Linked DNA regions of Homo sapiens. The protein of the gene in region 3 interacts with the protein of the main gene of each other region in a pairwise test. Each region holds a gene or a part of one and is shown on either strand. Other genes may lie near its edges.

Region 1 (7,570 bases), on a different chromosome or scaffold from region 3:
AAAATAAAAATCTTATGCTCTTCAAAGGACAATGTTAAGAGAATGAAAACAGAAGCCACAGACTAGCAGAAAACATCTGCGGTACACATATGTGATAAAGAACTTGTCTCTACAATATATGCGAATTCTTAAAGCTCAATGATAGAAAAAATGAAAATAGTCAAAGATCTGAACACACACTACACAAAAGAAGATATACACATGGCAAATAAGCATAATAAAAGTACTGAGCACCCTTTGGCATTAGATAATTGTGTACTAAAATGGGATACCACTGCACACCTATCAGAATGTCCAAAATCCATAGAAAACCAAAACAAAGAATACAAGACCAAGAACAATTGCCAGCGAAGATGTGGAGCAACGGAAACTCTCCTTCATTGCTGGTAGAAATGCAAAATGGCACAGCCACTTTGGAAGGCAGTTTGGCGTTTTCTTAAAAAAATGAAAATAGACTTAGCACAAGATTCAGCAGCCATACTCAATCAATTTACCCAATTGATTTGAAAACTTATGTCTACATAAAAATTTGTATATGAATGTATACAATAGCTTATTTCATAATCACCAAAAATAGAAGCATCCAAAATGTATTTCATTTGGTGAATGGATATATATATATATACATATATATATATATATATAACCAGACATTGATACTACTCCTCAATGAAAAGGAATAAGTTCCAAGCCACACAAAGTTATACATGACTCTTCAGTTCATTATGCTAAGTGAAAGAAACCAGTCTAAAAAGGCTACATAGTATAAGATTCTATTTATATGACATTCTGGAAAATGCAAAATTATAAAGATGAAAAACCTATCAGTGGTGGCCATGGGGTTTATCCGACAAGCACAAGGGAATTTATCAGGGCAGTGAAACTGGTATGCATAATACTGCAATGGTGGTTCCGTGCTTGCTTTGGTCTGAATATTTGTGTTGCCACAAAATTCATCTGCTGAATTACCAAGGTGATGGTATTAGGCAGAAGGTGGGGTATTTGGAGAATGACTAGATCATGAGAGCAGAGTCCTCATGAATGGGATTAGTGTTTTTATAAAACAGACTCCACGGAGATCCCTTATCCCTTCTTGCATGTGAGGATCTAGGGAAAAGGCAGCTGTCTATGAACTAGGGAGCAGGACTCCACCAGACATGAAATCTGCCAGCACCTTGATCTTGGACTTCCCAACCTCCAGAATGTGAGAAATAAAGTTGCGTTGTCTATAAGCCACCCAGTCTATCACTATTTTTGTTATGGAAGCCCAAACGGACTAAGACAATGGCACGAGGCATTTGTCAAAACCCATAGATCTTTACAGCACAAAGAGTGAAGCTTAATGTATGTAAAGTTTAAAAGTAACTTAAGAGGTTGGAGAATCACGGGACGGCAGGTAGAATGTTCCACACACACACACACACACACACACACCTAGTTGTATAATAGATATATGAAACCACCACAATGAAGCAAGTGGGGGGAAAAGTTAACACATTTTGTACTCCATCAAAGAAATATATATTTTATAAAGTTTAAGTTGGCCAGATAAGTGTGTAACATAGTTGAACATTTGATAATCATTTATTTAATTTTTTAGATATGAAAACTATCGGCTTTTTGTTTTAAAAAAATCCTTATCTTTTAAAAATGCATATTAAGTTATTTAGAGATGAAATGGTCTAATGCCTTAGATTTACTCCACGTTATTCCAGCAGCTCATATGCAGGTAGGCGAGTGTTTAACTGGAACCAGATTTGCTGTGTATTTAAAGATGTTCATGCTCGGTATCAAGTATCCTGGGTTCATTATATTCGTTCCTGTTATTCTGTATGTGTGAAGGCTTTCCCTAATAAAACTTTTTTATCATAAATATGCCATTAAAAGTGAAATCCTAAATGAAACTGACCACTTTGTAGAAATAAAATAAATCAGTAACCAAACTGATCCAAAGAGGAAAAGAAAACTTTAACTATACAACAGAAACTGTACAATATTCAAAGCTCAAGCCACCCTCAAACATTCCAGGTTAGACAGCTTTGGAGGCCAATTTTACCAAATGATCAGGGAAAACTAACCACCGCCTTATATCAACTCTTCCAGAACATACAAAAGACTGACAATTGTTCAGTTCATTCTCCCAGGCTAGCCCTCCTGGATTTAAAAACCAGATGAGGACCACATACCTCCCCTGATGGAAAAAGAACACATCAAGTAAGCTCTCTTACACAGCAGTAAATATCCTACATAAATTAGTAGTACATTAAACGAATAAACAGGCTCTGCCCAAGGAAATAAAATATGATTTAACATTAGAAAAAACATCTGTTTCATTGTGATTCCTTACATACAAAATGGAAGAGAAAAAAATTTGATCCTGCCAACGGGTACAGAAAAAGCTTTTTAAATAAATTTAATATGAATTCATGGTAAAAAAGAAAATATTTAGGCAACCTATACTGAAAGAGAACTTCCATTTCCTAAAATCAACAGCAAACATACTTAAATGTCAAATGTTCGAAGAATTATCATTCAAGTCAGGAACGAGAAGTAGATGTAGCCTATTATCTCTACATTTGAAATCAGGATTGAGACACAAAGAGCTGTAAGTACCGAAATGAGTGAGTGGTATGAACATTGGAAAAACATGTAGTGTTTAGTGATAATACCATTATCGATCTTGAAAATTCAAAGGAAAAGGTATGCGGAATATTCAAGTGCATCGGCCTTCAGAACGAGGTGTGCAACAGATTACTACAGCAAAATCAAAATCTTCACCTCACGAAAGCAATAACTAACTACAACAATTGATAGACAATATGCCACTTGCAATAGCAACAAAATCCAAGAATTACCTGAATAGAAGCCTAATAAAAATGTATAAGTTGTTTATAGAGGCAACTACCGAAGTATACTGACATATTCAGGAAAAAAGAGCTTGAAATCCATAGAGGAGTATAACATATTCATTCACGGGGAACACAACAGTGTAAAAATGTAAACTCAGCTTAAATTATTTACAATTTAGTGCCTTACCTGTAGCCGCCGACATTACAAGCAAATTTGGGCTGCTGTGCTCTGCTTCCCAAATCAACCCTGTAAATTTATAGAATGGAAACAGAAAGTAAAACACCAGTATCAGCAAGAAAATCTACACAACAAAACAGGGAAAGCCCAGAGTGAGACTGGAGACTGTGTTGAGCTGGTACTTGTGTGTGACACTTGCAGTGTCTGTTGGAGGGGGTTAGCGGCAGAGATGTTGGGGAGGTTTGTAGCCTGCCTAGACGGCAGATGAAAGAATGGGTAGAATAAAAGTTTTGAATTTTCCACTTCACTTCATTGCACAATCTGAGGCAGCCCCTGAAAACACGATGCCAAGAGCCCTAGGTAATAGCAGTGTCCACCAGGAAAATTGGGTTTGTTAAGGCAGCATGGCTCCAGAGTTCTGCTAATAACAACCTGAAACCAACAGAGTGGGAGAGGAATTATGTTTTTTAAAAAAATTCTTTCAACAGAACACAAAGACTGGAATGGAAGTAGACTAGGATATCAGAGTGAATCATGCATACTAAGGGTAGGTGTTAGTTCATAGAAATAAATATATATATTGCTACCTACATATATACTTAGAAGATATGTAAACCGTATTTCTTCAATTCAGAGAATAAATCATTTAGGACCAAAGGTTTGCCAAGTGTAGCTCTGGCTGGGGAGGAGCCCCCGTGGGAAGGTGTGCGTCTTCTCCCAGAGGTCACTATCATCGCGGGAGCTCCTGCCCTGCAGGGAGCACCTGGCCTGGCACCCGCAGCCATTCTCTACAAGGGGTGCAGATGCGCAGATGCGCAGATGCTCAGAGGTGACAGAAACAGAGCATCTCCCACCCATTCCTTCATCAAACAGCCAGGAGTGAGGAAGAGGACCCTCCTGAGTGAGGACTGAGGATCCACCCTCACCCACATAGTGGGACCACAGAATCCAGCTCAGCCCCTCTTGTCAGCCCTGGTACACACTGGCAATGATCTCACCCCGAGCACACCCCTCCCCCCAATGCCACTTCGGGCCGACTCAGAGTCAGAGACTTGGTCTGAGGGGAGCAAACACAATCGGCAGAGGATGGCGGTCCAGGCTCAGTCTGGCATCCAAGTCAGGACCTTGAGGGATGACCAAAGGCCCCTCCCACCCCCAACTCCCCCGACCCCACCAGGATCTACAGCCTCAGGATCCCCGTCCCAATCCCTACCCCTACACCAACACCATCTTCATGCTTACCCCCACCCCCCCATCCAGATCCCCATCCGGGCAGAATCCGGTTCCACCCTTGCCGTGAACCCAGGGAAGTCACGGGCCCGGATGTGACGCCACTGACTTGCGCATTGGAGGTCAGAGGACAGCGAGATTCTCGCCCTGAGCAACGGCCTGACGTCGGCGGAGGGAAGCAGGCGCAGGCTCCGTGAGGAGGCAAGGTAAGACGCCGAGGGAGGACTGAGGCGGGCCTCACCCCAGACAGAGGGCCCCCAATAATCCAGCGCTGCCTCTGCTGCCGGGCCTGGACCACCCTGCAGGGGAAGACTTCTCAGGCTGAGTCGCCACCACCTCACCCCGCCACCCCCCGCCGCTTTAACCGCAGGGAACTCTGGCGTAAGAGCTTTGTGTGACCAGGGCAGGGCTGGTTAGAAGTGCTCAGGGCCCAGACTCAGCCAGGAATCAAGGTCAGGACCCCAAGAGGGGACTGAGGGCAACCCACCCCCTACCCTCACTACCAATCCCATCCCCCAACACCAACCCCACCCCCATCCCTCAAACACCAACCCCACCCCCAAACCCCATTCCCATCTCCTCCCCCACCACCATCCTGGCAGAATCCGGGCTTTGCCCCTGCAATCAACCCACGGAAGCTCCGGGAATGGCGGCCAAGCACGCGGATCCTGACGTTCACATGTACGGCTAAGGGAGGGAAGGGGTTGGGTCTCGTGAGTATGGCCTTTGGGATGCAGAGGAAGGGCCCAGGCCCTCCTGGAAGACAGTGGAGTCCTTAGGGGACCCAGCATGCCAGGACAGGGGGCCCACTGTACCCCTGTCTCAAACTGAGCCACCTTTTCATTCAGCCGCGGGAATCCTAGGGATGCAGACCCACTTCAGCAGGGGGTTGGGGCCCAGCCCTGCGAGGAGTCAAGGGGAGGAAGAAGAGGGAGGACTGAGGGGACCTTGGAGTCCAGATCAGTGGCAACCTTGGGCTGGGGGATCCTGGGCACAGTGGCCGAATGTGCCCCGTGCTCATTGCACCTTCAGGGTGACAGAGAGTTGAGGGCTGTGGTCTGAGGGCTGGGACTTCAGGTCAGCAGAGGGAGGAATCCCAGGATCTGCCGGACCCAAGGTGTGCCCCCTTCATGAGGACTGGGGATACCCCCGGCCCAGAAAGAAGGGATGCCACAGAGTCTGGCCGTCCCTTGTTCTTAGCTCTGGGGGAACCTGATCAGGGATGGCCCTAAGTGACAATCTCATTTGTACCACAGGCAGGAGGTTGGGGAACCCTCAGGGAGATAAGGTGTTGGTGTAAAGAGGAGCTGTCTGCTCATTTCAGGGGGTTGGGGGTTGAGAAAGGGCAGTCCCTGGCAGGAGTAAAGATGAGTAACCCACAGGAGGCCATCATAACGTTCACCCTAGAACCAAAGGGGTCAGCCCTGGACAACGCACGTGGGGGTAACAGGATGTGGCCCCTCCTCACTTCTGTTTCCAGATCTCAGGGAGTTGATGACCTTGTTTTCAGAAGGTGACTCAGGTCAACACAGGGGCCCCCATCTGGTCGACAGATGCAGTGGTTCTAGGATCTGCCAAGCATCCAGGTGGAGAGCCTGAGGTAGGATTGAGGGTACTCCTGGGCCAGAATGCAGACAGGGGGCCCCATAGAAATCTGCCCTGCCCCTGCGGTTACTTCAGAGACCCTGGGCAGGGCTGTCAGCTGAAGTCCCTCCATTATCCTGGGATCTTTGATGTCAGGGAAGGGGAGGCCTTGGTCTGAAGGGGCTGGAGTCAGGTCAGTAGAGGGAGGGTCTCAGGCCCTGCCAGGAGTGGACGTGAGGACCAAGCGGACTCGTCACCCAGGACACCTGGACTCCAATGAATTTGGACATCTCTCGTTGTCCTTCGCGGGAGGACCTGGTCACGTATGGCCAGATGTGGGTCCCCTCATCTCCTTCTGTACCATATCAGGGATGTGAGTTCTTGACATGAGAGATTCTCAAGCCAGCAAAAGGGTGGGATTAGGCCCTACAAGGAGAAAGGTGAGGGCCCTGAGTGAGCACAGAGGGGACCCTCCACCCAAGTAGAGTGGGGACCTCACGGAGTCTGGCCAACCCTGCTGAGACTTCTGGGAATCCGTGGCTGTGCTTGCAGTCTGCACACTGAAGGCCCGTGCATTCCTCTCCCAGGAATCAGGAGCTCCAGGAACCAGGCAGTGAGGCCTTGGTCTGAGTCAGTGTCCTCAGGTCACAGAGCAGAGGGGACGCAGACAGTGCCAACACTGAAGGTTTGCCTGGAATGCACACCAAGGGCCCCACCCGCCCAGAACAAATGGGACTCCAGAGGGCCTGGCCTCACCCTCCCTATTCTCAGTCCTGCAGCCTGAGCATGTGCTGGCCGGCTGTACCCTGAGGTGCCCTCCCACTTCCTCCTTCAGGTTCTGAGGGGGACAGGCTGACAAGTAGGACCCGAGGCACTGGAGGAGCATTGAAGGAGAAGATCTGTAAGTAAGCCTTTGTCAGAGCCTCCAAGGTTCAGTTCAGTTCTCACCTAAGGCCTCACACACGCTCCTTCTCTCCCCAGGCCTGTGGGTCTTCATTGCCCAGCTCCTGCCCGCACTCCTGCCTGCTGCCCTGACCAGAGTCATCATGCCTCTTGAGCAGAGGAGTCAGCACTGCAAGCCTGAAGAAGGCCTTGAGGCCCGAGGAGAGGCCCTGGGCCTGGTGGGTGCGCAGGCTCCTGCTACTGAGGAGCAGCAGACCGCTTCTTCCTCTTCTACTCTAGTGGAAGTTACCCTGGGGGAGGTGCCTGCTGCCGACTCACCGAGTCCTCCCCACAGTCCTCAGGGAGCCTCCAGCTTCTCGACTACCATCAACTACACTCTTTGGAGACAATCCGATGAGGGCTCCAGCAACCAAGAAGAGGAGGGGCCAAGAATGTTTCCCGACCTGGAGTCCGAGTTCCAAGCAGCAATCAGTAGGAAGATGGTTGAGTTGGTTCATTTTCTGCTCCTCAAGTATCGAGCCAGGGAGCCGGTCACAAAGGCAGAAATGCTGGAGAGTGTCCTCAGAAATTGCCAGGACTTCTTTCCCGTGATCTTCAGCAAAGCCTCCGAGTACTTGCAGCTGGTCTTTGGCATCGAGGTGGTGGAAGTGGTCCCCATCAGCCACTTGTACATCCTTGTCACCTGCCTGGGCCTCTCCTACGATGGCCTGCTGGGCGACAATCAGGTCATGCCCAAGACAGGCCTCCTGATAATCGTCCTGGCCATAATCGCAATAGAGGGCGACTGTGCCCCTGAGGAGAAAATCTGGGAGGAGCTGAGTATGTT
Region 2 (8,301 bases), about 83 Mb from region 3:
GCGGGGCCAACAACTAGCTACAACTGATAAGTTTTAATTGAAACAACTGGAACAATTACATGGAGTCCCCACCAGCTCTGTCGCCAGCTACTGAGATGGTGTTGCACTTGCATCTCCTGGCATGTGCATAGGCGTGTGCCAGACAAGAGTAATTCAAGTTCTTAACTCACTTTTTATCTTTTTTTCCATGACTACGTGCCATCGTTAATCACATTGTTCACCCAAGGAGTACTATGAGATTGTTTTATTTTTTTCTTTTCTGTCCTTATCTAGGAAACCCTGATATTTACACTATCTCAATTTAAGTTTGAACAAGTAACTGATTAATCTCTGACAAAACATACTGAAGTTAGACGAGTTTGGGTAAAATCCGTTAAGGTCATGGTTGGTTTTAATCACATAGCTCAATTTAAAAGCTGAACACTAAAACATCTTTGCTTTCAAAGAGTGCTTGTTAGACAGCAAGTTTTGTTTTGCGTAACTTGAATTCTGCTACTTCCTTTTATTTTTTTCTGAAATAACAGTGATTGAGTCAATGAAGTGGCAATACGAATTAAAGGGCAACTCACCTGCCTTTGAAGGGACAGATCCCAAAGGGCCCAGATTAAATTTTAACCACGATTATGTTTGCCAGGATTTTATATCTCAAATGATTATGTTTGGCTTTTGTAATAATAAAAGGTTATTTTGGGAAAAGAATTCCCTTTTAACATCTATTGTGTTTACTAGGAGGAAATACAGGGTTAGACTTCGATACAGTTTAGCCTTTGAAAGAAAATAAAAGACAAATGATTTAGCAGATGGGTAATTCCCAAATCTGCAGAAATGTAAACAGCCAGGATTTTGGTGCCTATGGGTTTTATCAAAGAGGTAAGAAAGGCAGAGACCGACACCAGTGCGTCCTCTTTGGCTAGTTTTAACACGTTTACAGTCACAATTAACATTCAAGGAATTTCCTTTTCATCCAAGTGTTTCTTTTAAAGCACTTCATACCACAAACTAAAGTTCTAGCTGCCATCAGTCCTTCCCATACAGAAGAGTAGCGAAATCTCCATTATACTTCCTTACTTTGAAAATGGGCTCGGACCACGTCAATTTCCTTGGGTTGTTTGTTTTCCAGTATAGGGGGTTCTTGCCTCCTCCCTCCTTCCCTCTCTTTAATGAGCTTGTATTGAGGATCCTACTTCTTCTACCCTCACCCTGCTCTGCACTCACCCCGGAGCCAGATGAGCGCGAGGCTGCGCAGAGCGCTGCTGCCCAGCCGGAGCTCTGGGCTCGCAACAGCCTGGTTTCAAGTCCGCGAGCCGGCTGGCCCACTGCATTCTGCAAGAAAAAAGAATCCCCCTGTTCCCGCCCCCCGCCCCCCGCCCCCCACCCCTACACAAGGGATTCGCACATGGGCAAGGAGTCCGAGTCTTGGCTATGCATAGAGCTCAGTCCCGTATCCGAGTCTTCGTCGTTGCCAGGACCGCTCTTGGCCAGTCCACGGGCCTGGTCCACCCACATGTCGGCGCAGGCTTGAGGCCCAGGTTCCCGCGAGGGACTGCCAGAGCCAGGAGCCCCATCCGGTGCCACCGTCAGCTCCAAAGTGTGCAAAGTTTGCAGAAGGCCCTGTAGCTCGCGCTTCTTGCTGTCCCATTGCTGCTGGCTGTAATCCAAGTCCGACTTGACGGCCTCTAGGTCCGTGTTGAGCCGCAGCCCAATGTAAAGGCTGGTACTGAGCTGCGTCCTGACCCGTTCCTGCTCCAGCAGCAGCTCGCCGTCGGGGCCACCGTCGGGCTCCAGGGGCTCCTCCCGCGCCGCCAGCTCCTCCTGGCGCCGTCGCATCCACCTCTGGTTGAGTTCCTCCTGAATCTCGGCTGAAAGGCGCTCCAGCAACTCCTCCTGCTGAACCCGTTGCTCCTGAAGCCGCAGCAAGTCGTCGCAGCGCCGGGCCAGCTCCTCCAGCGCCGCCGCCTGCGCCTCGCCGGCTAGAGGGGGCGCCGCCGCCGCCTCCTCCGCCTCCGCCGCCACCTCTTCTGGCTCCTCTCCCGGTCTGGACCCGTCGAGCTCGATGCCTGCCCCAACCAAGTAAGTGTCCTGCACGTAGTTGACCCCGTGACGCCGCATGCGGTCCAGGTGCACCTTGGCCTCGTAGTGATCGATCTCGCGGTCCAGCTCGTGGAGCCGCTGCACCTGCTGGCGAATTGTGTGGTCCTGGGAAAGCACCAGATGCACCAGCGTCTCCATGCGCTCCACCGACGCGCTCTCGTGGGTCCGCGGCGACGAAGAGCAGGACGAGGCAGTGGACGACGAAGTGGACGAACAGGACGACGGTGTCTGCTGCTGGCGCCGCCGGTTGAGCTTGGCCAGTTTGCGAAAGGCCTTGCGCACCACTCGCCGCTGTTTCTCCTGGGTCATGGCCAGGCTGGGCCGCGCCGGGGCCCCGCGGGCCGGACAGGGGCGCTCTCGGCTCAGCACTACGCGCGCCTCGGCGCTGCGGGGGCCGGCGTTAGGCAGCGATGCCTCGCTGCGCACTAGCACGAAGCGCACATTCTCTTGCTCTTCGCCCCAGGCAGCCCAGAGGCGCAAGATGCGCGTCTTGTTGGGGAGGATGCGCTCAAAGCCGCGCCACTTCTCCACGATGCAATAGCACTGCGGGGGCCCGCACAGCATGCCCTGCGGCAGCGCCTCGTCGTCGTCCTCGTCGTCCTCGTTCGGGGGTTCGGGCAGCTCTCCCGGGCCATGCGGGTCGCCGGCCGACCCCAGCCGCCGGCTCCGCCGCTGTCTCCGTCGCCGCCGGCAGCCGTCCTCCAAAAGCACTCGCACAACGTCGGAGCAAGTGGTGCGGCGGGAGAGGCCGGACACCAGCTTCTCTTCCTGGCAGATCCACACCGATATCTTCTTTTCCGAAGGATCCATGGCGCAACCAGGGCGCAGGTGGCAGGTCCGGCCGGGGTCTGCTGGGGCGGCGAGGACAGCAAGGGCAGCCCAGTAGCTCTGGGATGGGAGAGGAGCCCGTGCCCCCCTCCGGCGGCTGCACTAGCCCTGTTCCCCCGCTGCGCACCGAAGGCAGGCTGGAAAGCGACTGCGGCTGTGGTCGCGGTTGCGGCTGCGCTCTGCCCGGACGACGGGCGCTCCCGGGGCAACGCGCCCAGGACCGGCTCCCGCCGCTCTGGCTCTGCCCAAGGTGCCCGGGACCTCCGGGTTTTGCTCCTCCCCACGTGGCTCCACCCCTTCCCGCCCCCAAGGCCCAGAGCTGTGGCTGGAAGTGCAGGAGGCTCAGGGCCCAGGCCCGCCCCTCGCAGCCTTGCCGCGCCCCGTGCGCCCTGTCCGCCCCTCGCTCGCATTGCAGGCATCCTGAGTCTCGGCCCTTTTCGCCAAATCGCTGCTCTGCCGCGCGCCTACGCAAGGAAAGATTCAAGGGTCCCTCCACTTCAGGGAGTGGAGCCCGCGCCTCGGCACGGATCAGCTGTGCGTCTCCTTTGGCCTACTGGCTCCTCTGCTTGTGTCTATAGCTAGCTGGACGCATCGTGACTTTATCTTCTCATCTTTCCTGGCGCCCCCAGACGCATTTCCTGGTCCCTCGAGGCAGCGGCGTCTGGGGAGTGCACTTTGCACAGACAGGGAAACCGAGGCACTCAGCGGTCTCCAATGGAGACGCTGTAATCGCATTCCACGACCAGCTAGCGCTATAAGCGCTGCCTCTAAAGCGGAAGGCCTCCCAGTCCTTCTCGACAGGAAGCAATATTTGCATATCTAAGGAGAACAAGATTCGGCAATGTGCTCCGGGAGCAAGTGCAGGCATGGAACGGTATGGGCTGGAGGGGGACAGACCTTCAGAGGCGGCTGCCCGTTCCCTGTAGTGTCACGTAAGTGGGTCTCCACGTCACCTTCACCTCAGCTTCCCACAGCCTTTTTGGGAGAGGGGCTCCTCATTCTAGTGGGAGTTCAGGGCCCAGACCCAAGTCACAAGCTATTTTTATGCTTTCCACCTCCATAAGGGGAAACTGTGAAGGCTTCTGGCATTTTCTAATATTCAGATGTGGTCCAGAAGAGATAACAGCCAAGCTTTACAGTGCAAGAAACCCAAGGCCACAATGCAAATGAACTTGTTTCATCCTTAACTGCTGATGAGGATGGTCCACTGAGTGCAAGGTTTGCCCTGAACTTGTCCTTGTGAGCACAGGTGTAATAATAAGCTCACTCCCTTTCTTCAAGACCTTAGATGGCTCCCCATTGCCTCTTGGCTAAAGCACTTTTGTTCATTCAATGATTCACTCAGCAAATATTTATTGAGTACCTCTCTGCTCCAGGTCCTACGCTAGGGATTTGACAATGAACTAATCGCCAGTTCTGGCTTGCAAAGAGTTCACAGTCTAGTGGGAGGGCACAGCCAAGTAAACATTCCCAACACAATGTCCTGTGTCCTCTGATAAGGGAGAGCATGAGGTTCTGGGGGACCCTGGAGTGGCATCCAACCCATCTTGGAGGGGCAAGGAAGGCTTTCCCTAGAAGAGGTGTGTTAGACAAGACCCAAAGGACCATTAGAGTCTGCCAAAAGGAAAGCAGATGGAGGGGAGGGACAAGCAGCATTCTAGAAGGGATTGTAGTGCAGTCAGGAATCAAGAGCATGTTAGTTATGGGGGCTGTCAGGAATTTGAGAGGAGTGCCTAAAACTGAAGTTGGATAATTGAACAGGAATGGGATCAGGAAGGGCCTTTAATTCCATGCTTATGTATTTGGATTTATCTTAAAGACAATGAGAACCCATAGAGTGCAAATCTGGAGTCAGAACAGCCAAGTAAAAATTTCAGCACCACGTACTAGCTCTATAACCTTAGGAAAAGTATTAATCTCTCTGAGCTTCAGTTTCCTGGTCTGTGAAATGGTGATAATAAAAATACCTCCCTAATGGAACTGGTGTAGCGATTAACTGCCTGGGCCTGGTAAATCCCCAGTAGTTTTATTGGGGGGTTGGAAAGGTCGGAGGTATATTAGTTTTCTATTGTTATGTAACAAATTATCACAAACTTAGTGACTTAAAACAACACCCATCTATTACTTCACTGTTCTGTAGATCACAAGTCCAACTTGGCATGGCTGCTGCATACTTTGCTCAGGATGTCCGAGGCAAAAGGCAAGGTATAGGCTGGTTCAAGTTCCTGTCTGAAGGCTCTGGGGGAATACCCAATTCCAAATCCATTCAGGTTGTTTGCATGATCTGGTTCCTCTCAGTTGTAGGTCTGAGGTCCCCATTCTTTTGTTGGCTGTCCTCCAGGGTCACTCTCAGCTCCTACAGAACTCTCTCAGATCCTTTCTGTAGGATATCCACCCCCCTCCCTGCAACTTTAAAGTCAGCAACCACATGTCAAATCCATCCAGTCCTCCTTTGCTTCTAATCAATCTACCATCCTCTTCTGCCACTAGCTAGAGAAAACTCTGCTTTTAAAGTGCTTGATTAGTCAAACCTACCTGGATAATTTCTCTGTCTTAAGGTTGACTGATTAGTAACCTTAACTATATCTGAAAAACCCCTTTTGCTGTGTACTGTAATATAATCACCAAAGTAGCCCCCAGGAAGATGGAGATTATGGGGCTGTCTTAGAATTCTGCCTACCATAGGGCATAACATGAACAGATTTTGATTTTTTAAAGATCCCTCTGTTTGCATTGAGGACAATGGGTGGGGGTGGGGGATGACAGGCAAGAAAGCCTTTTAGAAGACTATCTCGTTCATTCAAGGAAGAGATGATGACCTATACTGAGAATAGTGGCGGTGAGAAGACTGGACACAATTGAGAGCTATCAAGGAGGCAGGAGAGGCAGGACTTGGTGATAGATTGACGAGAGATTTCCTTCTCCCTAGAATGGTGTCAAAGGTCTCTTGCAATCTGGACCAGCCCACTTCTCCAGCTTCTCACTTACATGTGGGCTATCCCTTCTTCCTTTCCTCTCACACAGGATTGCTAGAGCTTTGTAGTCAGCTGCCATCCCTGCTGGATTCTAAGCTCCACAAGGGTAGGGATCATGTCTGTTTTGCTCACTTTTGAATCCTTTACATTTAGTGCAATCCCTGACACATTCTAGGTTTACTCAGTATCTGTTGAATAAATTAATGAATCCATGAAGGAATCCTACATTTTAGCAATCCAATACCTCATCCATCCAGAAGAACTCCTGCATCTTGATGTATCCACACTTTTGTACATGCTTTTCCCACTAATTGAGATTCCTCTTAAACAACTGGAGAACTTCTACTCACTCTTCAGAAGCTCAGGTAAATGTCACCTGCTCTGGGAGTCCTTTCTTTCCTCCTCCAGAAAGAACTGGTTCCCCGCTCTTCTTCTGCGTCTATTAATGTGGAGGTTACATTGTGCTGTGATGCGTTTTTTATGTCTGTTTACTCCCACAAGAATAGAGCTTTTCAAAAGAGAAGATTGTCTCTGTCCTATTTGCAGTTTAGTCCTCAGTGCCTAGGGTGCCTGGCACATGGCAGGTTCTCCATCTTCCCGTATGTTTTAAGGAACACTCAGATGAATAATGTCTAAGATATTGTGCTACCCTCAAGATAACTTATTTCTAGAAGCAGACAAATACATGGAATCCCTGTTGTAGTAATGATATATATGAAATTCCTGCTGGACTAATTAAAGGGTAGAATGATTGTATGGGTGCTAGGAAGGATGCAGAAGGCAGGCTTCAATAATTGGGGAGGAGGGGTTGAGGGCATTCTTGGTGGGAGAAAATACTTGAGTTAAAATGCTGAAATGAGTATGCATGTGGTCATGTACTGGTGTTTCAGAGTGTGTGTTTTGGAGTCACCCTGCCTCATTTCAAATACCAGCTATAAGCTTTCCAACCCTCAATCTTCTTACGAGGAAAAAAGTATAATATTGGAACCTGCTTTATAGAGTTGTCATTACATGAAATGAAATAATGCACAATATATAAAAGATCTAGTGCAGTGACTGGCACATAAAACATGCTCAATAAAACACAGCTAGTGTTGTCAAGAAATTGTATTAAGTACCTACTGCATGCTATGTCCTGGGCTATGTGTTGAGGATCCATGAATGAACTGGACAGACATGGTCCCTGACCTTAGAGATGTCACAGCCAGGATTAGTGTGGTTTAGCAGTGGATTTCTTAAGTTAGGCTAGGCTGTAGTAACAAACAGGGCCAAACTTGTATAATGGCTCAAACATCACAAAGATTTATTTTTCACTCAGATAATAGTCAAAAGAAGATGTCCTGGTTGGGAGGTGGCCTTATTCCTGGTTCCTTCCATCTCGTGACTCCAAAATCCTCTAGACTTCGTCATCATGTATATAAGCCAGAGGAAGAGGAGAGAGTATGGAGGGGCACACCCTCTTCTTTAAGGCATTGGCTGAAAATTGAGCTCATATCCCGTTGGCTAGAACCCAGTCACGGCCACTAGTAATGGCAAGGAGGCTAGGAACTGCAATGAGTATCTCAGAAGAGGAAATGGGTTTTCATGAACAGCTAGCTGCCTGCCATAAAAATATTTATTTGAAAAATGAGACAAGAGGCATAGAAAGAAGTTCCAAAAGTGTAGGAATTGCAAACTGGTGGTCCACCAGCCAAATCTTGCTGCCTTAGACAGAATATACTCTCTGTTTAGCCACAAAAACAACACTCTATTTCACATATGACCCAATTCACATACATTCATAACTCACCTGAGCCCTGTAATCATTTGAGTTGTGACTCTTGCTTCCATACATCCTCCTAGGGTTATCTCATTCACTCCCAGGGATTTTATACAATTGATATGCCATGGCTTCCACATCTATTCCAGAATTATCCAAATATGCATATCCAGCAGCTTGCTGGGTAGCTCCACTTGAATATCTGCCAAACATCCAAACCTTTGTCAAACAGATGAAGTTGAACCCATTATTTCTCCGAAAGCCTGTTCTGCCTCTTGTAATATCTATTTCAGAAAATGGTCCCATCATTCACCAAGCAAGACCTGAAACTTGAGGATCACCGTTTTTCATCACCATCTACTTCCTTTCCCCACAGGATGTTGAAGTTCTGTGAGGGCAGAGGGTTTTGCATGCTTTTTTTCCTACTTAACCTCCAGCACCTGAGACATCAACTCTCACACAGTAGACAATAAGTATTTGTAGAGTGAATAAATGAATGAATGAATGAATGCATTGCCTTAGCTTAGGCCCTCATTTATTTTTAACCTGGACCTTGCACTTTCCTTCAAACCAATTTCCTTGCCTCAAATCCTGCCTCTCTCCCATACTCTCTACTGCATATGTTTGATGAGTCCATTATCTTCAGAA
Region 3 (7,677 bases):
AGCTCCTTGCCAGCAACAGAACAAAGCTTGATGGAGAATGACTTTGACGAGTTGAGAGAAGAAGGCTTCAAACGATCGGTGATAACAAACTTCTCTGAGCTAAAGGAAGATATTTGAACCCATTGCAAAGAAGCTAAAAACCTTGAAAAAAGATTAGACGAATGGCTAACTAGAATAAACAGCGTAGAGAAGACCTTAAATGACCTGATGGAGCTGAAAACCATGCCATGAGAACTACATGACGCATGCACAAGACTCAGTAGCCGATTCAATCAAGTGGAAGAAAGGGTATCTGTGATTGAAGATCAAATGAATGAAATGAAGCGAGAAGAGAAGTTTAGAGAAAAAAGAGTAAAAAGAAATGAACAAAGCCTCCAAGAAATATGGGACTATGAGAAAAGACCAAGTCTGCCTCTGATTGGTGTACCTGAAAGTGACGGGGAGAATGGAACCAAGTTGGAAAACACTCTTCAGGATATTATCCAGGACAACTTCCCCAATCTAGGAAGGCAGGCCAACATTCAAATTCAGGAAATACAGATAATGCCACAAAGATACTCCTCAAGGAGAGCAACTCCAAGACACATAATTGTCAGATTCACCAAAGTTAAAATGAAGGAAAAAATATTAAGGGCAGCCAGAGAGAAAGGTCAGGTTACCTGCAAAGGGAAGCCCATCAGACTAACAGCAGATCTCTCGGCAGAAACTACAAGCCAGAAGAGAGTGGGGGCCAATATTCAACATTCTTAAAGAAAAGAATTTTCAACCCAGAATTTCATATCCAGCCAAACTAAGCTTTGTAAGTGAAGGAGAAATAAAATCCTTTACAGACAAGCAAATGCTGAGAGATTTTGTTACCACCAGGCCTGCCTTACAAGATCTCCTGAAGGAACAACTAAACATGGAAAGGAACAACCGGTACCAGCCACTGCAAAAACATGCCAAATTGTAAAGACCATCGAGACTAGGAAGAAACTGCATCAACTAACGAGCAAAATAACCAGCTAACATCATAATGATAGGATCAAATTCACACATAACAATATTAACCTTAAATGTAAACAGGCTAAATGCTCCAATTAAAAGACACAGACTGGCAAATTGGATACCAAGAGTCAAGACCCATCAGTGTGCTGTATTCAGTAGACCCACCTCACATGCTGGGGCACACATAGGCTCAAAATAAAAGGATGGAGGAAGATCTACCAAGCAAATGGAAAACAAAAAAAGGCAGGGGTTGCAATCCTAGTCTCTGATAAAACGGACTAGATCAAAAGAGACAAAGAAGGCCATTACATAATGGTAAAGGGATCAATTCAACAAGAAGAGCTAACCTAAATATATATGCGCCCAATACAGGAGCACCCAGATTCATAAAGCAAGTCCATAGAGACCTGCAAAGAGACTCAGACTCCCACACAATAATAATGGGAGACTTTAACACCCCACTGTCAACATTAGACAGATCAGCGAGACAGAAAGTTAACAAGGATATCCAGGAATTGAACTTGGTTCTGCACCGAGCGAACCTAATAGACATCTACAGAACTCTCCACCCCAAATCAATAGAATATACATTCTTCTCAGCACCACATCACACTTATTCCAAAACTGACCACATAGTTGGAAGTAAAGCACTCCTCAGCAAATGTAAAAGAACAAATTATAACAGACTGTCTCTCAGACCACAGTGCAATCAAACTAGAACTCAGGATTAAGAAACTCACTCAAAACCACTCAACTACATGGAAAGTGAACAACCTGCTCCTGAATGACTACTGGGTGAATAATGAAATGAAGGCAGAAATAAAGATGTTCTTTGAAACCAACGAGAACAAAGACACAACATACCAGATTCTTTGGGACACATTCAAAGCAGTGTGTAGAGGGAAATTTATAGCACTAAATGCCCACAAGAGAAAGCAGGAAAGATCTAAAATTGACACCCTAACATCACAATTAAAAGAACTAGAAAAGCAAGAGCAAACACATTCAAAAGCTAGCAGAAGGCAAGAAATAACTAAGATCAGAGCAGAACTGAAGGAGATAGAGACACAAAAAACCCTTCAAAAAATCAGTGAATCCAGGAGCTGGTTTTTTGAAAAGATCAAAATTGATAGACCACTAGCAAGACTAATAAAGAAGTAAAGCGAGAAGAATCAAATAGATGCAATAAAAAATGATAAAGGAGATATCACTACCAATCCCACAGAAATACAGACTACCATCAGCGAATACTATAAACATCTCTACGCAAATAAACTAGAAAATCTAGAAGAAATGGGTAAATTACTGGACACATACACCCTCCCAAGACAAAACCAGGAAGAAGTTGAATCCCTGAATAGACCAATAGCAGGCTCTGAAATTGAGGCAATAATTAATAGCCTGCCAACCAAAAAAAGTCCAGGACCAGACGGATTCACAGCCAAATTCTACCAGAGGCACAAAGAGGAGCTGGTACCATTCCTTCTGAAACAATTCCAATCAATGGAAAAAGAGGTAATCCTCCCAAACTCATTTTATGAAGCCAGCATCATCCTGATACCAAAGCCTGGCAGAGACACAACAGAAAAAGAGAATTTTACACCGATATCCCTGATGATCATTGATGCAAAAATCCTCAATAAAATACTGGCAAACCGAATCCAGCAGCACATCAAAAAGCTTATCCACCAAGATCAAGTTGGCTTCATCTCTGGGATGCAAGGCTGGTTCAACGTACACAAATCAGTAAACGTAATTCATCATATAAACAGAACCAAAGACAGAAACCACATGATTATCTCAGTAGATGCAGAAAAGGCCTTCAACAAAATTCAGCAGCCCTTCATGCTAAAAACTCTCAATAAACTAGGTATTGATGGGACGTATCTCAAAACAATATGAGTGATTTGTGACAAACCCACAGCCAATATCATACTGAATGAGCAAGAACTGGAAGCATTCCCTTTGAAAACTGGCACAAGACAGGGATGCCGTCTCTCACCATTCCTATTGAACATAGTGTTGGAACTTCTGGCCAGGGCAATCAGGCAGGAGAAAGAAATAAAGGGTATTCAGTTAGGAAAAGAGGAAGTCAAATTGTCCCTGTTTGCAGATTACATGGTTGTATATTTAGAAAACCCTATCGTCTCAGCCCAAAATCTCCTCAAGTTGATAAGCAACTTCAGCAAAGTCTCAGGATACAAAATCAATGTGCAAAAATCACAAGCATTCTTATACACCAATAACAGACACACAGCCAAATCATGAGTGAACTCTCATTCACAATTGCTTCAAAGACAATAAAATCCCTAGGAATCCAACTTACAAGGGATGTGAAGGACCCCTTCAAGGAGAACTACAAACCACTGCTCAATGAAATAAAAGAGGATACAAACAAATGGAAGAACATTCCATACTCATGGATAGGAAGAATCAATATCGTGGAAATAGCCATACTGCCCAAGGTAATTTATAGATTCAATGCCATCCCCATCAAGCTACCACTGACTTTCGTCACAGAATTGGAAAAAACTACTTTAAAGTTCATACAGCACCAAAAAAAACAGCCCACATTACCAAGACAATCCTGAGCCATTAAAGTGATCATTAAAAAGTCAGGAAACAACAGATGCTTGAGAGGATGTGGAGAAATAGGAATACTTTTACACTGTTGGTGGGATCGTAAACTAGTTCAACCATTGTGGAAGACTGTGGCGATTCCTCAAGTATCTAGAACTAGAAATACCATTTGACCCAGCCATCCCATTACTGGGCATATACCCAAAGGATTATAAATCATGCTGCTATAAAGACACATACACATGTATGTTTATTGCGGCACGGTTCACAATAGCAAAGACTTGGAACCAGCCTAAATGTCCATCAAGACTGGATTAAGAAAATGTGGCACATATACACCATGGAATACTATGCAGCTGTAAAAAAGATTGAGTTCATGTCCTTTGTAGGGACATGGATGAAGCTGGAAACCATCATTCTGAACAAACTATTGCAAGGACAGAAAACCAGACACCACATGTTCTCACTCATAGGTGGGAATTGAACAATGAGAACACTTGGACACAGGGTGGGGAACATCACACACCGGGGCCTGTCGTGGGTTGGGGGGAGGGGGGAGGGATAGCATTAGAAGATATACCTAATGTAAATGATGAGTTAATGGGTGCAGCACAGCAACATGGCACATGTATACATATGTAACAAACCTGCACGTTGAGCACATGTACCCTAGAGCTTAAAGTATAATTAAAAAAAAAAAAAACGTGATGGGAAAGAATTAGGTATACCTCTGTGAAAAATCAAAACATCTGTACATCAAAACTAGAATTAAAGGCAGATAATAAAATGAAGAAAACTTTTTCCCATAGAAAAATGGGCAAAGGAAATTCATGAAAGGGAGAAAATTAGCCAATAACATATATGAAAAGATTTATACTTTGATGGAAATGGAAAATAACTAGGAGTAGCATATTTTTCTCATTAGAATGGCTATGATTCTTCTTTGACCCAGTAACTTTTTAGTTTTTAATTATTGATCATTAGAAAATCTTTTAAGACTGATTGCCTGAGGGAATTCTCACTATTTAATAATGCTAAAGTGAAAAAACCTACATATTTGTTTTGTCTCAATTTATTTTACACATATAGGAAAAAATTTAAATAACCAAATGACAGTCATTATCTTTGGGTAATAGGATTATTGGTTATTTTTCAGTGTGTTTTTTCTCAGTCTTCTACATTTACTGCAGTCAACATAATTTTATAATCAAACTTGAAGCGGACTTTAGAAAGTACTTAAAATGCGGATTTTAAAAGTATTATTTTTGTGTGCTTGACTGTAACTCTATAGTTGGTTTCTACATGTGCTCCTATTAATAAAATGTATTAATAAGTAATAGTTACTAATACATTTACTAATTTTAATTAATAAGTAATATATTAATAAGACAGTAATGTACTTTAGGACTGTTATGTGAACTTTGTATGATTGGCTAAATTTTTTACCACTTTATAAAAGTCTTTGAAATTTTTTTACCATAGTAATGGGGTTTTTACTTGAGCACATTTCAAACACTCAATGTCTTTTTTTTAATTTATTATTATTTTTTGTGAGACAGAATCTCACTGTCGCCCAGGCTGGAGTGCAATGGTGCGATCTCAGCTCACTGCAACCTCCACCCCTCCACACTCCCCACCCCACCCGGGTTCAAGCGATTCTCCTGCCTCAGCCTCCCGAGTAGCTGGGATTACAGGCGCCCGCCACTATGCCTGCCTAATTTTTTTTATTTTTAGTAGTGACAGGGTTTCACTGTGTTAGGCTGGTCTCGAACTCCTAACCTCAGGTGATCCACCCACCTCAGCCTCCCAAAGTGCTGGGATTACAGGTGTGAGCCACCGCACCCGGCCCACTCAATGTCTTTAAATTGATTTTTTAAAAAACAAATATGAGATAATTAACATTTTATTGTTCCCAAAGAGTGATCCTCCACTGGACTCATCCATCAATTTTATTTTTTATTTAGATGAGTTTATTCTTTCTTAATATACTTTCTCCGCATATGCTGTTACAGCATCCACGTTTGTGTTTGTATTTGGCAGCCATATTTTCTGCTCTTAAGAATCTTCAAGATAAGATTCGACGCTTGGAACTTGAGAGGATTCAGGCAGAAGAAAGTGTGAAAACCTTGTCTAGAGAAACAATTGAATATAAGAAAGTACTGGATGAACAGATACAAGAAAGGGAGAATTCAAAGAATGAGGAATCAAAGCACAATCAAGGTTTGTTGATGAAGAAAATTAAAATTCTATCAAAATAAGTGTTGTGCAGTATTAAGTATTCTAAAAGAAATAGTACATTAGTGTTTTGTAGCGGTATCTTCAAGTACTACAAAACTGCATTGTATTCTGGTGCATTTTGAGGAGCAAATGCTGTTGTCATACATGGCATTTATTTACTGAATGCAAGGCCAGTTTGACTAGCACGTAGAAAGAATGATTTAGGTAATCTGAAAAGGCGTCCAGGTCTGTGGAAGGTGTTTTTATTGTATACACAATAGATCCAATTCCTGTTAACAGCTTGTTAAAACTATTTTATGGGTGAGTTGATTTCTGCTTTTCTTATGTATTCTTTTTAGAACTGACATCTCAGTTGTTAGCTGCAGAAAATAAATGCAATCTATTAGAAAAACAATTGGAATACATGCGAAATATGATAAAGCATGCCGAAATGGAGAGGACATCTGTCTTAGAGAAACAAGTAAGTAAAGCACCTCACAGATTGATACTCAAGAACAGTTATGGGGAAAACTAATTGAATAAAGACTTTTTTTCTTTCGGTGAGGATTAATGGTGCTGTTACAGCCCAGGACTGAAATTTCTTGGCATCAGTTATGAAATCTAAATATGTGATTGGCTTTTTCTTGTTGTTATTGTTGTGTTTCGTAGAGTTTTACTTAAATGGTAAAAATACAGTTGTGAGATGTTTGAAAGTTATGTTAGCTTCTTTGAGTCTACATTATAAAAAGTGTAAATAACCATATACCTCTGTATCTCTGAAATTTGTTTAATGACTCCAGTGAGATAGTAGATGACTTTGTAAAACTCTTCAGAATTGTTACTTAGCATAGCATTTTTGTGCTTTCTTACACCAGAGATCTTCGTATTTAGGTGACCTGTACATTTGTGAGAAGATATCTCAACATCAGTCTCAAATATATTGATTGATCAATTGATTGGATCTCACTCTGTCTCACTCTGTCACCCAGGCTGGAGTGTAGTGGCATGATCTCGGTTCACTGCAACCTCTACCTCCTAGGCTCAGGTGATTCTCATGCCTCATCCTCCCGAGTAGCTGGGATTACAGGCGCATGCCACGATGCCCAGCTAACTTTTGTGTGTGTGTGTATTTTTAGTATAGATGTGGCCAGGCTGGTCTCAAACTCCTGGCCTCAAGTGATCAGGCCGCCTCGGCCTCCCAAAGTTCTGGGATTACGGGCATGAGCCACTGTCCCTGGCCTTGTGTGTATTTTTTTTTTTTTTTTTTTTGAGACGGAGTTTCCCTTTTATTGCCCAGGCTGGAGAGCAACGGCGTGATCTCAGCTCACCGCAACCTCCACCTCCCGGGTTCAAGTGATTCTCCTGCCTCAGCCTCCCAAGTAGCTGGGATTACAGGCATGTGCCACCACACCCGGCTAATTTTGTATTTTTAGTAGAGACAGGGTTTCACCATGTTGGTCAGGCTGGTCTTGAACTGCCAACCTCATGTGATCCGCCTGCCTTGGCCTCCCAGAGTGCTGGAATTACAGGCATGAGCCACCACGCCCGGCCAGCCTTGTGTATATTTTTTTAAAACTTACTCCTTTTTCTGTTATGAATCTAGAGTTTGCATTCATTAGTTTTGTAGACATCTTAACTCTATTATAAAATCGGATTGTTTATATGCTTAACATTATGCTAGATGCCCTGCAATGGAAAAAAAAAATACTAGGCAGTTGTCCTTCAGTATCCATGAGTGAATTGGTTCTCAGACCCCTGTGGATAGTAAAATCCATGGATGCTCAAGTCTCCTATAAAATGGTGTGGTATTTGCGTATAACCTACACCCAATCTCATATACTATAAATTATCTCTAGATTACTTATAACACCTAATGCAATGTAAATGTTATGT

The links. Proteins that work in one complex are often made in the same cells at the same time.
Region 1: the proteins of CEP57 (region 3) and MAGEA2 interact in binary tests that used the Homo sapiens proteins (3 or more experiments, as listed by UniProt).
Region 2: the proteins of CEP57 (region 3) and RASSF10 interact in binary tests that used the Homo sapiens proteins (3 or more experiments, as listed by UniProt).

Annotation. Positions count from the first base shown.
Region 1 is NC_000023.11:152,750,681-152,758,250, reverse strand, and holds the start of MAGEA2 (melanoma-associated antigen 2), read left to right. Parts: upstream 1-4,408; 5' UTR 4,409-4,463; exon of another isoform or gene 4,464-4,709; intron 4,710-4,859; 5' UTR 4,860-4,938; intron 4,939-5,737; 5' UTR 5,738-5,857; intron 5,858-6,428; exon of another isoform or gene 6,429-6,526; intron 6,527-6,676; 5' UTR 6,677-6,742; intron 6,743-6,822; 5' UTR 6,823-6,887; coding exon 6,888-7,570. UniProt on the Homo sapiens protein: Reduces p53/TP53 transactivation function through recruitment of HDAC3 to p53/TP53 transcription sites. Also represses p73/TP73 activity. Proposed to enhance ubiquitin ligase activity of RING-type zinc finger-containing E3 ubiquitin-protein ligases.
Region 2 is NC_000011.10:13,004,177-13,012,477, reverse strand, and holds RASSF10 (ras association domain-containing protein 10), read right to left. Parts: upstream 3,163-8,301; 5' UTR 2,902-3,162; coding exon 1,378-2,901; 3' UTR 359-1,377; downstream 1-358.
Region 3 is NC_000011.10:95,807,325-95,815,001, forward strand, and holds part of CEP57 (centrosomal protein of 57 kDa), read left to right. Parts: intron 1-5,607; coding exon 5,608-5,787; intron 5,788-6,143; coding exon 6,144-6,265; intron 6,266-7,677. UniProt on the Homo sapiens protein: Centrosomal protein which may be required for microtubule attachment to centrosomes. May act by forming ring-like structures around microtubules. Mediates nuclear translocation and mitogenic activity of the internalized growth factor FGF2, but that of FGF1.